Linked DNA regions of Homo sapiens. The protein of the gene in region 1 interacts with the protein of each later gene in a pairwise test. Each region holds a gene or a part of one and is shown on either strand. Other genes may lie near its edges.

The links.
Region 2: the proteins of ENDOG (region 1) and ITLN2 interact in binary tests that used the Homo sapiens proteins (3 or more experiments, as listed by UniProt).

Annotation. Positions count from the first base shown.
Region 1 is NC_000009.12:128,814,207-128,821,562, reverse strand, and holds the start of ENDOG (endonuclease G, mitochondrial precursor), read right to left. Parts: upstream 3,064-7,356; 5' UTR 2,879-3,063; coding exon 2,378-2,878; intron 1,913-2,377; exon of another isoform or gene 825-1,912; coding exon 715-824; exon of another isoform or gene 1-714. UniProt on the Homo sapiens protein: Endonuclease that preferentially catalyzes the cleavage of double-stranded 5-hydroxymethylcytosine (5hmC)-modified DNA.
Region 2 is NC_000001.11:160,951,442-160,959,089, forward strand, and holds the start of ITLN2 (intelectin-2 precursor), read right to left. Parts: upstream 3,369-7,648; 5' UTR 3,301-3,368; coding exon 3,286-3,300; intron 3,010-3,285; coding exon 2,946-3,009; intron 1,293-2,945; coding exon 1,179-1,292; intron 1-1,178.

The DNA.
Region 1 (7,356 bases):
TGCACAGGAGCAAGAGTGGAGGCCCTGGGTCAGGCAGATCTAGATTCAAACTCCCGAGAAGGGTGGAGGGAAGTGCTCCAAGCAGAGCAGAGACTGAAGGCGGGAGAGCCTGGTGCACCGCGGACCTGCAGGGGGAAGGCATGAGAGCTCGGTGCACTGGGGACCTGCATGGGGAAGGCGGGAGAGCTCGGTGCACTGGGGACCTGCATGGGGAAGGCGTGAGAGCTCGGTGCACTGGGGACCTGCATGGGGAAGGCGGGAGAGCTCGGTGCACCTCGGACCTGCAGAGGGAAGGTGGGAGAGCTTGGTGCACCGCAGACCTGCAGGGGGAAGGCGGGAGAGCTTGGTGCACTGCAGACCTGCGGGGGGAAGGTGGGAGAGCTTGGTGCACTGCAGACCTGCGGGGGGTTCCATATTGGCAGAACAAGATTGGGTGGGCATGCCAAGAGGTGACAGCAGGGAGAAGCGGGGGCAGATTCAGGGCCTGCTGCTGCCCATGGGCAGAGGAGAGATGGTCAGGGGTACCCGACAGGTCTTTGGCTGTGGAGGTGGAATGAGGGGACTCGAGGCAGGGAAGCTGACAGGCTTGCCAAGAAACCAGATGAGTAGGGAACTGGTATTGACCCAGAGCCTGGGGCAAGCCTGGCCCTGTGAGTGGCAGTAGGGGCCTCAGGTGAGTGGGAGGTTCTGCCGCCCCCCTGGTTTCCACCTTACCTGGGCAGGAAGAGTGGCCCTGTGCAGACATAGACGTTTTGGTAGCTGCGGGTCAAGCTGCGGCTATATTTCTCCAGGTTGTTCCAGGCATTCTGGTTGAGGTGGGGCACCTGGTAGGAGAGATAGGGCTTAGCAGGACTGTGGCTGGGACCCTTCCTCCTCTATCAGAGGGCCGCCCCAGGTCCTGAGGGGATGGACAGGCTCAGAGATATCCAGTGAGACAAGCGGGGGGAAACTGAGGCTCAAGGAATGAAAGTCACTCCCTGAAACCCAGGGCTGATAGAGTGCTAGCCACCACCCTCTGTCCCTCCCACAGCCCAGGTGTCAAAGTCTTTTCTCAGCTCCCAAGAGTCGAATGAAGGAAGAGCCTGTCTCCACCTTTCAGAGAGGACTGAGGCCTGTCCCCAGCCCCACCCAGGGTCTCCTGGGAAGACCAGCCCTTCCAACTACCAACCCGTTCCTTTTCCCAGTCTGAGCCACAGGAAGAGCCTAGCGGGGAATGCCATGAATCGACCTCCATCCTGAGCTCTCCAGGCCTGGGACAATGGAAAGTGGATAGGGGGCTGTCTTCCCAGAAGGAAGCTGGGTCAGAGGTTGGTGCCCCATGGGCTCCACCCAGAGCCCCATGGCAGTCTCCATCCATTGGTGCCAGGACCTGCTGGGAACAGGCTGAGAGGGTGGTTGGCCCAGTGCACAGTGCCTGGCACTAACAACCTGATCGTGGGCCAGGTGTCTGCCTCGAAACTGCCTGAAGGCAGGCAGGGTAGGACAATGTCTGGAGGCTCACGGTTTTATAGACTAGGGGTCCCCAACCCCTGGGCTACAGACCGGTACCAGAACCGGGCCACACAGCAGGAGGTGAGCAGCAGGCGAGCAAGGGAAGCTTCATCTGTATTTACAGCCACCCCCCCATTGATCCCACAGCAGCCTGAGCTCCGCCTCCTGTCAGATCAGTGGCGGCTGGAGATTGTCATAGGAGCTGGAACCCTATGGTGAACTGCGCATGTGAGGAGGTTGCGCGCTTCTTTTGAAAACCTAATGCCTGATCTGTCGTTGTTGCCCATCACCTCCAGATAGGACTGTCTAGTTGCAGGAAAACAAGCTCAGGGCTCCCACGGATCCTACATTACTGTGAGTTGTATATTTCACTATATGTTACAATGTAATAATAATAGAAATAAAATGTACATAAATGTAACGCACTTGAATTATCCTGAAACCCGCCCTCACCCACCAAGCCGTGGAAAAACTGTCTTCCACGAAACCGCACCCTGGTGCCCAATAGGTTGGGCGCTGCGGTTCTACAACAGACAGCCTTCTTCTGCTGTGTGACACTGTGCCCGTCACTTTGCCTCTGTGAGCCTCAGCGCCTCATCACTACCGCAGGAGGAAGGTGAATAACGGTATTATCCCCATTTTTTTGACGAGGAAAGCGACGCTCAGGGAGGTGCCCAGGGTTCGCAGTTGAAGCTCAAGCCCTGGTCGGCCTGCAGACCCTGTGCCTGGAGCCCAGTGCTCCTCCCTCCCGCCACGGGATGTCACTGCGATGCCTGACCGGGGGCGCGTTGGGCAGCTGCCCCGTTCTGCAGAAGAACAAACCGAGGCCCCGCGAGGCCAGGCGCCGGCCCCGCATTCCGCGACCGGCCCGGGGCGCGGGCGCTACCTGGGGCGCGACGTTGCTCAGGTAGAACGTGTCGTCCATGGCCTTCTGGCTCCAGCGGTGGTTGGCGGCGGCGGCCAGGTGACCGCGGTCGAAGCCACTGCCGCGGTAGTCGGCGTTGGTGGCACGGTGGTACGCGTGCACCGAGTCGTCCTCGCGGAAGTCGCACTCGCGCCGGTCGCCGTCGCCGCGGAGACGCTCGGGTCGCAGCTGCTCCACCACCCAGAGCGCGCCGCGGGTGCGCGGGTCGTAGCACAGCACGTACGACTCGCGGCTCTTGAGCTGCGCCAGCCCCGGCAGCCCGTACTTGGCCAGCTCGCCCGGGCCGCGGGGTCCCCCGGGCACAGGGGGCAACTCGGCTGCCGCCGCCACGGGCAGCACGGGCAGCCGGCCCAGCAGTCCCGGCGCCGCCCGCGCGTCCTCCCGCCGCCGCCGCCAGCCCTCGACGACCGCACCCAGCCCCGCGCCCGACGCCAGGGTCAGGCCGGCCCGCAGCGCCCGCATGGCCGGGGAGCGACCTAGCGGCGGGCGACCCGCGAGGCTCTTAAAGGAGCCGCGTCGCGGGATCCAACGAGGGCACAGGGCTGCTGGGGCCGCGGACGATAGCGTGACCTCCCTTCCACTCACAAACACTGCCAAGGGCTTGGGCCTCGGAACCCAGAAGGGAGCAGCAGAGCCCAACCGGGTGTCCCCGGCGTCCTTTCTTTGCGCATTTAAGACGCCGGTATGAGGGGCGTGGCATCGTCGCCTCAGCTCGCGATTGGCCACCATCAGGCCTGGCTCCGCACCCGCCTCGCAGGCCCCCTGCTGGTCGTGGGGTGGGAGACACTCTCTCCTCTGCGCCTGCGCAGGGAGCTCCTGCTTAATACGCTCCGCGGAAGGGTCAAGCACTGTCGAAAGCTTTTACTGTCACTGCTTAGTCTCACCCTCTACACCGCTCGGAGAGTGAGCTCCTAGTTCGCAGAGCAGGCACAGGGCCCCAGGTATATCTGGCCCTAGGCTATCCTCCATGACACCATAAAATAAGCCCCGCAATTCTACCAGATTGGCAAAGGTTTCTTTTTTTTTTTTTTTTTTTTTGAGACGGAGTTTCGCTCTGGTCGCCCAGACTCGAGTGCAATGGCGTGATCTCGGCTCACTGCAACCTCCGCCTCACAGGTTCAAGCGATTCTCCTGCTTCAGCCTCCCAAGTAGCTGGGATTACAGGCATGCGCCACCACGCCCGGCTAATTTTGTATCTTTAGTAGAGACAGGGTTTCTCCATGTTGGTCAGGCTGGTCTCAAACTCCCGACCTCAGGCGATCCGCCGGCCTCGGCCTCCCAAAGTGTTGGCATTACAGGCGTGAGCCACCGCGCCCGGCCCAGATTGGCAAAGATTTTAATTAACAGCAGTTTGAGGACAAGGATGCAGACGGCTGATGCTGGCTGCTGGCTGGAACAGAAACCTGGGGCGAATATTCCAAAAAACAGCTTGACAGTACAGTACAAGCGAAGCCTTAAAAAGGTTCATACCGTTCAACCCACGCAGAGGGCTGAGCTGGGGAAATCTCGGGAATGCAAGGATCTCGAACGCAAATATTCACCAGAGTATTACACTGCCGGCAGGAATAAGCAAAATATTCAGAAATATGGACTGGTTAAGGACTTTTATTTTTTGAGACGGAGTCTCACTCTATTGCCCAGGCTGGAGTGCAATGGCGTGATCTCCGCGCAGTGGAACCTCTGCCTCCCAGGTTCAAGTGATTCTCCTGCCTCAGCCTCTGAAGTAGCTGGGATTACAGGCGCGCACCACCAGGCCCAGCTAATTTTTTTTTTTTTTTGAGACGGAGTCTCGCTCTGTCGCCCAGGCTCACTGCAACCTCCGCCTCCTTGGTTCAAGCGATTCTCGTGCCTCGGCCTCCTGAGTAGCTGGGACTACAGGCGCGCGCCACCACGCCCAGCTAATTTTTGTACTTTTAGTAAAGAATGGGTTTCACCATGTTGGCCAGGCTGGTCTCGAACTAACTCCTGACCTTGTGATCCACCCACCTTGGCCTCCCAAAGTGCTGGGGTTATAGACATGGGCCACCCAACCCAGCCACTCTTAGCATTTTTTTTTCCTTTAAGGAAAATAAGGTCTTGTGCTGTCACCCACACGGAGTGCAGTGGCAAGATCACAGTTCACTGCAGCCTTGACCTCCTGGGCTCAAGCCATCCTCCTGCCTCACCCTCCCGAGTAGCTAGGACCACAGACACATATCATGATGCCTGGCTAACTTTTAAATTTTTTATAGAGATGGGGCCTCGCTATGTTGTCCAGGCTGGTCTTGAACTCCTGGCCTCCAGTGATCCTCCTGCCTTGGCCTCCCAAAGTTACAGGCATGAGCCACTAAGCCCTCCTGAGGTCAGTAGTTTGAGACCAGCCTGGCCAACATGGCGAAACCCTGTCTCTACTAAAAATACAAAAATTAGCTGGGCATAGTGGACCGTGCCTGTAATCCCACCTACTGGGGGACTGAGGCAAGAGGATTGCTTGAACCTGGAGGGCGGAGGTTGCAGTGAGCCGAGATCATGCCACTGCACTCCAGCCTGGGCAACAGAGTGAGACTCTGCTTCAAAAAAAAATATGGGACAGGGTCTTGCTTTGTTGCCCAGGCTGTTCTTGACCTCCTGGGATCAAGTGATCTGTGGGCCTCAGCCTCCTGAGTAAATGGGACTACAGGCTATGGTGTATCACCATACCCAGCTACTTTCAGCAATTTTGAAATATACATTAACTATAGTGACCATGCTGTAGTTTGTGTTTTTTTTTTTTGGAGACAGAGTTTTGCTCTTGTTGCCCAGGCTGGGGTGCAATGGCGTGATCTCGGCTCACCACAACCTCTGCCTCCCAGGTTCAAGTGATTCTCCTGCCTCAGCCTCCCGAGTAGCTGGGATTACAGGCATGTGTCACCATCCCCAGCTAATTTTTTGTATTTTTAGTAGAGACAGGGTTTCTCCATGCTGGTCAGGCTGGTCTCGAACTCCCGACCTCAGATGATCCACCCACCTCAGTCTCCCAAAGTGCTGGGATTACAGGTGTGAGCCATCGCACCTGGCCATACCATGCTATAGTTCTAAAAAAAAAACATTCCTGGGCCGGGTATGGTGGCTTAGGCCTGTAATCATAGCCCTTTTGGAGGCCAAGGTGGGAGGATTGCTTGAACCAAGGAGTTCAAGACCAGCCTGGGCAACATAGTAAGACCCCCGTCTCAAATTAAAAAAAAAAAAATCCTCCTGTCTAGCTGAAACTGTACCCTTTGACCAACATTTCCCCATTCCCCACCGCCCCAACTCCCACCAATCCCCAGACTCTGGTACCATCATTCTACTCTCCACCTCTATGAGTTGTTTTACATTCCGAATATAAGTGAAACCATGTCGTGTTTGTCTTTCTGTGCCTGGCTTATTTCACCTACCGTAACGTCCTCTAGGTTCTTCCATGTTGTCACAAATGACAGAATCTCCTTTTTTTTTTGAGGGTGAATCTCGCACTGTTGCCTGGGCTGGAGTGCAATGGCACAATCTTGGCTCACTGCAACCTCCCCCTCCCAGGTTGACGCAATTCTCTTGCCTCAGCCTCCTGAGTAGCTGGGATTACAGGTGCACACCACCACGCTCGGCTAATTTTGTTGTATTTTTAGTAGAGATGGGGTTTCACTATGTTGGCCAGACTGGTCTTGAACTCCTGACCTCGTGATCCACCTGCCTCAGCCTCCCAAAGTGCTGGGATTACAGGCGTTAGCCACCACGCCCGGCCTTGTCTTTTTTTTATAAGCCATTCTGACAGGTGTGAGGTGGTATCTCATTTTGGTTTTAATTTGCATTTCCCAGATGATCCATGCATTGTTCAGCATTTTTTCAGATAGTTGCCAGAAATTTTTATGTCTTTTTTTATTTTTTTTTGAGACAGAGTCTGGCTCTGTCACCAGGCTGGAGTGCAGTGGCTCGATCTCGGCTCACTGCAACCTCCGCCTCCTGGGTTCAAGCACACACCACTATGCCCATCTAATTTTTGTATTTTTAGTAGAGACGGGGTTTCACCATGTTGGCCAGGATGGTCTTGATCTCTTCACCTGGCGATTCGCCTGCCTCAGCCTCCCAAAGTGCTGTATGTCTTCTTTTGAGAAATATCTATTCAGGTCCTTTGCGTGTTGTTTAAATCACATTGTTTTCTTGCTATTGAGATTTTTGTTTGTTTCTGTTTTTGTTTTTTAGACAGAGTCCTGCTCTGTCACCCAGGCTGGAGTGCAGTGGCACGATCTCGGCTCACTGCAACCTCCGCCTCTGGGTTCAAGTGATTCTTGTGCCTCAGCCTCCTGGGTAGCTGGGATTACAGGCACCCACCACCACTCCTGGCTAATATTTTTGTAGTTTTAGTAGAGACTGGGTTTCACCATATTGGCCAGGCTGGTCTTGAACTCCGGACCTCAGGTGATCCACCCGCCTCCGCCTCCCAAAGTGCTTGAATTACAGGCATGAGCCACCATGCCCAGCTGCTACTGAGATGTTTTAAGTACTTATATATCTTGGATATTAACCCCTTATCAGATGTATGGTTTGCAAATATAATCATGCATCACATAAAGATATGTAATCCAAGCTACCCTGGGATGCTGAGGCATGAGAATTCCTTGTACCCCGGAGGCTGAGGTTGCAGTGAGCTGAGATCGTGCCACTGCACTCCAGCCTGGGCGACAGAGCGAGACTCTATCTCAAAAAAAAAAACAAACCAAAAAAAGTATGCCAGGCTAGGTGGCTCACACCTGTAATCCCAGCACTTTGGGAGGCCGAGGCAGGTGGATCACAATGTCAGGAGTTCAAGACCAGCCTGGCCAACACGGTGAAACACTGTGTATACTAAAAATACAAAAATTAGCCGGGTGTGGTGGCACACACCTGTATTCCCAGCTACTGGGGAGGCTGAGGCAGGAGAATTGCTTGAACCCGGGAGGCAGAGGTTG
Region 2 (7,648 bases), on another chromosome or scaffold:
TGCTCACCTATGAGCAGAGGCACTGACTGTCTTGGCTTCACACTATCTTTTCAAAGAGTTTGTAGAGCAAATAGTCTTAGAAGAGACAGAGATGGTATCTCCCTCTCGACAGTGCCACCCTGTGGCCAGGAGAGGCCAGAAATCAGCACACGCCACATCTGATTCTACAGCAGGATAGGGCCTCTGTGCAGCTCAGAGCAAAGGTTGTGCCCACTTCATAAGATTCAGCTTCCCTAAGCTCAGAGTTCCCCTCCTGTTCACAAGCTTGCAGGAGACTGGCTCCACGGTGGCATCCTGGTGACCTTGCACATTTGCGCATAGGCCACATAGGGACAGCTGACCTAAGTCTTGGCAGAAAGCCTGTGGTCTTCCCCAAACATGGAAAGATGGGAACCTTGTGAGGAGCTGCAACAAGGTCACTTCTCACCCCCCTTCCCATCTTTCGTGGAGGCTGTCATGAGACAGCTGTCATAACTGTGTCATCATCTCCTGGGTTCTGAAGAGGTATGAGGCTTTTTGCCTCACTCACCCCCACCCCGTAGGGTACACAGGCTATGAAACAGCTATGGCAGCATGGACTGGCTCCTCAGCCACTGCCCATGTTGTGTTGTCACTCGCCCTCTTTTCTGTGCTGTCTTGTGGGGCAAGGGATGGGAAAAGCTGACACTTTTGCCGATCTTGAACTTGCTAGCTATGTGAGTAATAAACTCTCTGGCTCTAAAAAGGGTTTGTTGTTTCCTTGCCAGCCACATTTGTCAGCCAGCTTGACAAACCCACTACTTGGGCAGATGTCACCTGGCCCAGTACAAGAAAATGCTGATGCTCTGGCTACTGCTATTTCTGTGATTAATAAAGCTCTTTGTCTCTGGCTCGGGAGTTTCAGGTTTTCTGCCAGCATCTATAAACCTGGGGCAAGTAGGGGCAAATCTCAGACGCATCACAGTTCTTGCCACCACCATAAGCATCACCAGGAACACTGCATTCTCTCTGTGTTCAGAAGACTTTGTGACTGGAATGGGACACAAAAGCCTCAAAATTCCCACTAGAAACCTCCTTGAGTAGGAGCTGGGGGCAGAACAGGCTCCATATGGATATGTCCCTCCTGATTTCCATGACTGGGCTCTGTTGAGCTAAAAAGTGGCTTCAAAGAGAGAATGCTGAGTTGGTTCATTACTCACCACCTGCACTATGGCAGCGTTCCTTGATTTCTTTGCAGCTTCTAGGCAGGGAAGAAAAGGAGAAGGCACAGGTTTCGAATTCCCTCGAGAGCATCTCAAGAGAAGAGGCTGCTGCTAGAAAATGTGAGAATGAGTCTCATTAGAAGTCTGACCACTGAGGCCATCTTTCCTGGCCAATCTCTGCCCCTGTATCAACTCATCACTCTGCTCTGAAGTCCCAGGAGGTCAGGGATTCCCTATGCTAAGACGGTCTGATCCAACAGCTGGTATAGGTTAAACACCTGGAATCTTCCACTCGACTAATTTTAATTAAATACCTACTGTGTGAACTACCTAGACACCGGACAAAGACAATTTGACACATTTCTTCAAGAGACTACATTCTACAAGGAAGGAGCACATGGAAAGGGACCCAACTGAGATGGGAGGGCAAACCCACTAACGGGGGTGAGGCCTGGGAACTGCTGGGGAAGGGACCAGCTGTAACTCAGAGCAGGCTGATTTTGATGGGAGAATGGGAGCTGGCTACAGGACAGGAAGGAAAGGGGAGAGTACACCCCAGGAAGAGAAGAAAGCACATGAGATGGCCTGAAGCAATAACAGAGCCCAGCCCAGCCCAGCCTGCCAAAAACTACAGGTCAGTCGCTTATTGTGGCTGGAACATATGTTGTAATACAAAGAAGTCTGGAAACCAAAGCTGAAAAATTAACAGAGGCCAGTGGATGAAGGGCCATGTATATAAGTCTAAAAGCCTAGAAATCATTCCAAAAGCCTGGCAGAGCGGGAAAAAGTGTAAAATTACAGGACTCAGGCCAGGCACAGTGGCTCATGCCGGTAATCCCAGCACTTTCGGAGGCCGAGGAGGGTGGATCACAAGATCAGGAGTTCAAGAACAGCCTGGTCAATATGGTGAAACCCCATCTCTACTAAAAATACAAAAATTAGCTGGGGTGTGGTGGTGCACACCTGTAATCCCAGCTACTGGGGAGGCTGAGGCAGGAGAAGCTCTTTAACCCAGGAGACGGAGGTTGCAGTGAGCCGACATCACGCCACCGCACTCCAACCTGGGCAACAGAGCAAGACTCCGTCTAAAAAAAAAAAAATTACAGGACTCAAGGTAAAATCCAGACAAACCCTGATGACAGTGCCTCCTTGAGCAGACACTTAACATCTCTGATCCTTTTTCTTCATCTTTAAGATGTCATTAATAACTTCTTTATACGCATGGAGATCAAATGAGATGACATATGTAAATGTGCTTTTTTTAACTGATGGATTGAAATAAACAATAAACCCAGTATCAATGAAAAAATATCACTATTGTGCCTACTGGAAGAATAGAATTGTGAGGATTCTATTCTCACAATATCCTCCTCTGCGACTAGAGGAGGGTGTACCCTGGACACAGCACTGATCACCCAGCTGCCTCTGGAGATCCCAAGGCCAAGGCCACAAGAGCAGCTGAGCAGGGACACAGTTCTTACTCTCTCACCCCATGAACCCCTCACAGCCACAGAAGCAGAGAATCAAGCCCTAGGAAATACCTGAGCTAACACCCTGACTGCTTCAGACCAGACCCCAGGAGAGGCCAGAAATCAGCACCCAGTCCACACCTCAAGTTGGCTGCCTAGCCTGGGTTCCCTGCCTCTCCAGAACTTCCCCTTTGACCCTTGACTTCAGAGCCCTGCCCAGCTCTACTCCCTCCAGGCCCTGCACAGCAGAGGGGAGCCCAGGAAACTGCAGCTCCTACTCTCAGAAGCCATTTACCTGCACTGCACCCACTGGTGGCCACAGAGAAGAATAACAGGAAGCAGAGTCTGGTCATTGTCCTCTAAGGAAAAACAAGATGCACAAGGTCACTGGCTGGCCCTTCCTTTGTCATCCTCTCGTTCTTACTTCCTAACCTTTCTGAGTCAGGAATCCTCAAATGGAAAGTGATGGGCTCATGAGCATTCTAAAACCTCCTGGAATATGCCCCACGGCTGTCCAACACTACAAATACCCAAGGGGCCATGGGCTCATTTCCCTGAAACTCTAAATCTCTAAAACTGAGACCTGAGCTGGCATCATTGCTCCCACACACATGGATCAAAAACATTTTTCTCACCAGCATGGACAGCATCCTTACAGATGCCAGGAGCTGATAGTTCCCTTCCTGTGGACACTCGGAGCTCCCCTGCAGAGGATCCTGATGAAGGGTGAAGTGCTGGTCCCTTTATGTGGAGAGCTGTGGAGAGCCAAACCACCTGAGCCCTGCCCAGCCCAACCCTGAGCAGCCTAGGCTGCTAGCCCCTCCCTCTGAAGCCCTTCCCTCTGAGGGTACCTGAGCCTGGGACCGTGGAAATGAGAAAGGACGTGCGACTGGCTGGAGGAGCAGGGAGCTGTGTTCCTGGCCACACAGGTGACTGTCGCCATCTGAGGAGGGGCATCCTGCTTTGCCAAGGCAGGCCATACAATGTAGCAGTATCTAATCAGATTCGTGGATAGGTCACAATCCTCCCCTGCGTTCTCCCTCTCCCACCTCCCCCAGATGCCCTGGCCCCCTAGACACAACTCTGTCAAGAAATCATCCTTTTAGACTGAGGTGACACCTCATGAAAAATAAATTAATTAATTAAGAATAATAATTGGCCAGGCACAGTGGCTCACACCTATAATCATAGCGCTTTGGGAGGCCGAGGTGGGCGGATTACCTGAGGTCAGGAGTTCAAGACCAGCCAACATGGTGCAACCCTGTCTCTACTAAAAATACAAAAATTTAGCTGGGTGCAGTGGCGTGCACCCGTAATCCCAGCTACTCTGGAGGCTGAGACAGGAGAACTGCTTGAACCCAGGAGGTGGAGGTTGCAGTGAGCCAAGACTGCTCCACTGCACTCCAGCCTGGGCAACAGAGCAAGACTTCACCTCAAAATAATAATAATAATAATAATAATAAATAAATGGGAAAAGAAGACATCATCCTTCCAATCTTTCCTCCAATTTCTCTATGAGGCCTTCCCTGACACCCCCATCACCAGACAAAGCTGATGGATCCTTCCTTTGTCCCACTATACACTGTCCAAACACTAATTATTGCATGTATCCTGCTGTAATTTTATTGTTTTATTAACTCTGTTTAGAAACAATTTGAAATTTATTAAATGTTGCAAAAATAACAATAATATAAAGCCACATATATGCCCTTTACCTAGATTCAACTATTGTTAATATTTCACCCCATTTGCTTTATCTTTCGTGTTCTCTCTCTCTCTCTCTATATATATATAGATATATGTATATAAAATACACCCACACACACAAAATTTTTTTCTGAACCATTTGAAGGTAAGGTACATACATCATGGGCTTTTACCTTTAAATAAATGCGTATGGGTTTTTTTTATTTTGTTTTGTTTTTTGACACAGAGCCTCACTCTGTCACCCAGGTTGGAGTGCAATGGCATGGTCTCAGCTTACTGCAACCCCCGCCTCCCAGGTTCAAGTGATTCTCCTGTCTCAGCCTCCCGAGTAACTGGGATTACAGGCACCCACCACCACGCCCAGCTAATTTTTGTATTTTTAGTAGATACGGGGTTTTGCCATCTTGGCCAGGCTGGTCTTGAACTCGTGACCTCGTGATCCACCTGCCTCGGCCTCCCAAGTGCTGGGATTATAGGTGTAAGCCACCATGCCTGGCCAACTGTGTGTTTTCTAATAATAGGAATATGTCATGTATAACCACAGTACAATTATCAACATCATATTATTAAAAACTCTTTTTTTGGGCTGGGCGCGGTGGCTCACGCCTGTAATCCCAGCACTTTGGGAGGCCGAGGTGGGTGGATCATCTGAGGTCAAAAGATCGAGACCAGCCTGACCAACATGGAGAAACCCGGTCTCTACTAAAAATACAAAATTAGCCGGTCGTGGTGGTGCATGCCTGTAATCCCAGCTACTCAGGAGGCTGAGGCAGGAGAATCACCTGAATCCAGGAGGCGGAGGTTGCAGTGAGCCGAGATCACACCATTGCACTCCAGCCTGGGCAACAAGAGTGAAACTCCATCTCAAAAAAAACAAAAAACAAAAAAAACTCTTTTCTTTTCTGTAGAAACGGGGTCTCCCCATGTTACCCAGGCTACTCCAGAACTCCTGACCTTGATCCTCCTGCCTCAGCTTGCCCAAGTGCTAGGATTACGGGCGTGAACCACCGAGCCAGCCTGTTAACTCTTTTTAACATAACTGATACTTCCCTAGAGTATCATCAGCCCAGGGGTCATGGTGAGTTAGCATTAATGAGACAGGAATTTCTCTGGCTTTCATGCCCTCCCATTGTAAGGAGACTTCTGGTCCCCTTTTAAGTCCATAATCCCAAGGGGCATCTTGTGTGTGCTAACAAACATTTCTCCATTCCACACATACTCCCAGCCCACCCTGACTCCTTTCAGCACTGCCTACTGAAACCACAGTAGGCACACACCACAGCTGAACACCAACCGTATGATTTGGCATCCCTGCTGCCTCTGATGCTGGATCTGGTGTCGGGACAAGTTGCTGGTGTTTAAGGCACTGCTTCCTCTCACTCCCAGGCCTCCGGCACATCTCTTGCTATTCAAGGCATGGAAGTCATCCACCTCATAGGGTGCTGGAGAAGGGAAACGCCTCACTGCTCCCATGATGGGCACCAGACCAGGACATGTCTCCAGGTGTCTCAGTGACCTCAGTGACACTGTTCTTTCAGTGTCTCTTGCAGTCTGTCTCTCTCTTGGACTCAGACAGGAATCTAAGGAGACGAGGATAGAGGACAAACCTGGAAGATGTCATACTACTCTGATGGACCTTTGTCTCTGAATACTAAGATACTATTATTGGAAAGATTTTGTAAGCTCCTTCTCCTGAAACTTTTGAATTTTTTTATTTGAGTATTTATATAGGTATTTGCTTAATACCTGTCTCCTTCTTTATAGAGACAGAATCTATGTCTGTGGTTGTCCACCAGATGTCCAGGCCTATGCACAATGCCTGGCACACAGTGGGCCTTCAATATGCATTAGTTGAATGAAAGAAATTGACTCCAGGTGGTACTAAAAAACACACATGAACGCTTCCTCCAATCCAAAAAAATTTTAGGAATGAAAATGGCCAATGCAAAATTTTACAGTTTTCTCCCCTTTGTTGTAATTACTCTAAGCCATGTTTCCACCATCAAATACTCAATAAAAGTTAGAATGCATGCAACAGCTTGGTGTTTACCAATGCTTTGGAGGAAAAAAGGAAGAGATGTGGTGTCCTGTTTGGGAAAGAACAACAGGACAAAGGAAACCAGACAAAAACAATGGCATCCCCAAACAGATGGATGATAAGGAATAGATGAGAGCCCAGGAACTGGCTGAAATGCAGAAACACACAGGAGAAAAATAGGTCTCCTTGGCACTCTTCAGTTGAATTGGGTAATTTTCTACAGTAGATTTTTCCCGCAGTACCAGAACTACTGGGAATGGCAATGAAAACGTAGCTGGAAGAAAGGGGACCTGAGGCTTCCATTACATATTCATAAATGTTTATTATCCACTTAGTACCTTTCTTTGTAAATTCTGGATTTTTTTTTTAAGACAAAGTCTCACTCTGTTGCCCAAGCTGGAGTGCAGTGGCATGATCTTGGCTTACTGCTACCTCCACCTCCCGAGTTCAAACGATTCTCCTGCCTCAGCCTCCTGAGTAGCTAGGACTACAGGCACGCACCACCATGCCCAGCTAATTTTTGTATTTTTAGTAGAGACGGGGTTTCACTATGTTGGCCAGGCTGGTCTTGAACTCCTGACCTCATGATCCACCTGCCTCAGCCTCCCAAAGTGCTGGCATTACAGGCATGAGCCACCAAGCCCGGCCAATTCTGGATATTTTAAATTTCATTTTTAATACCTCTGGCATTAATTTTCATGTAAATCTGAGGTGAACATCTAAATTGATCTTTCTTCATCTTGCAAATTTTTTTTTCCCAACATTGTTTATGGATTGTTTTCCATCATAATTTTTTTTTTTTTTTGAGATGGAGTTTCGCTCTGGTTGCCCGGACTAGAGTGCAATGTAACGATCTCCGCTCACTGCAACCTCTGCTTCCCAGGTTCAAGCGATTCTCCTGCCTCAGCCTCCCAAGTAGCTGGGATTACAGGTATGTGCCACCACGCCTGGCTAATTTTGTATTTTTAGTAGAGACAGGGTTTCACTATTTTGGTCAGGCTGACCTCAAACTCCTGACCTCAGGTGACCCACCCACCTCAGCCTCCCAAAGTGCTGGGATTACAGGGATGAGCCACTCCACCCCGCCTTTCATCACAATTAGTGCCTTTAGTAGGCATTAAATGAGTTCTTACTTAGGGTCGATTCATCTATTTTTGTACGAGTACTATGTCGTTTAAATTATTACAGCTTAACAACATATTGTGATTCCAAGAAGGCTAATGCCTACATTTACACGTACATATAAAATAGTT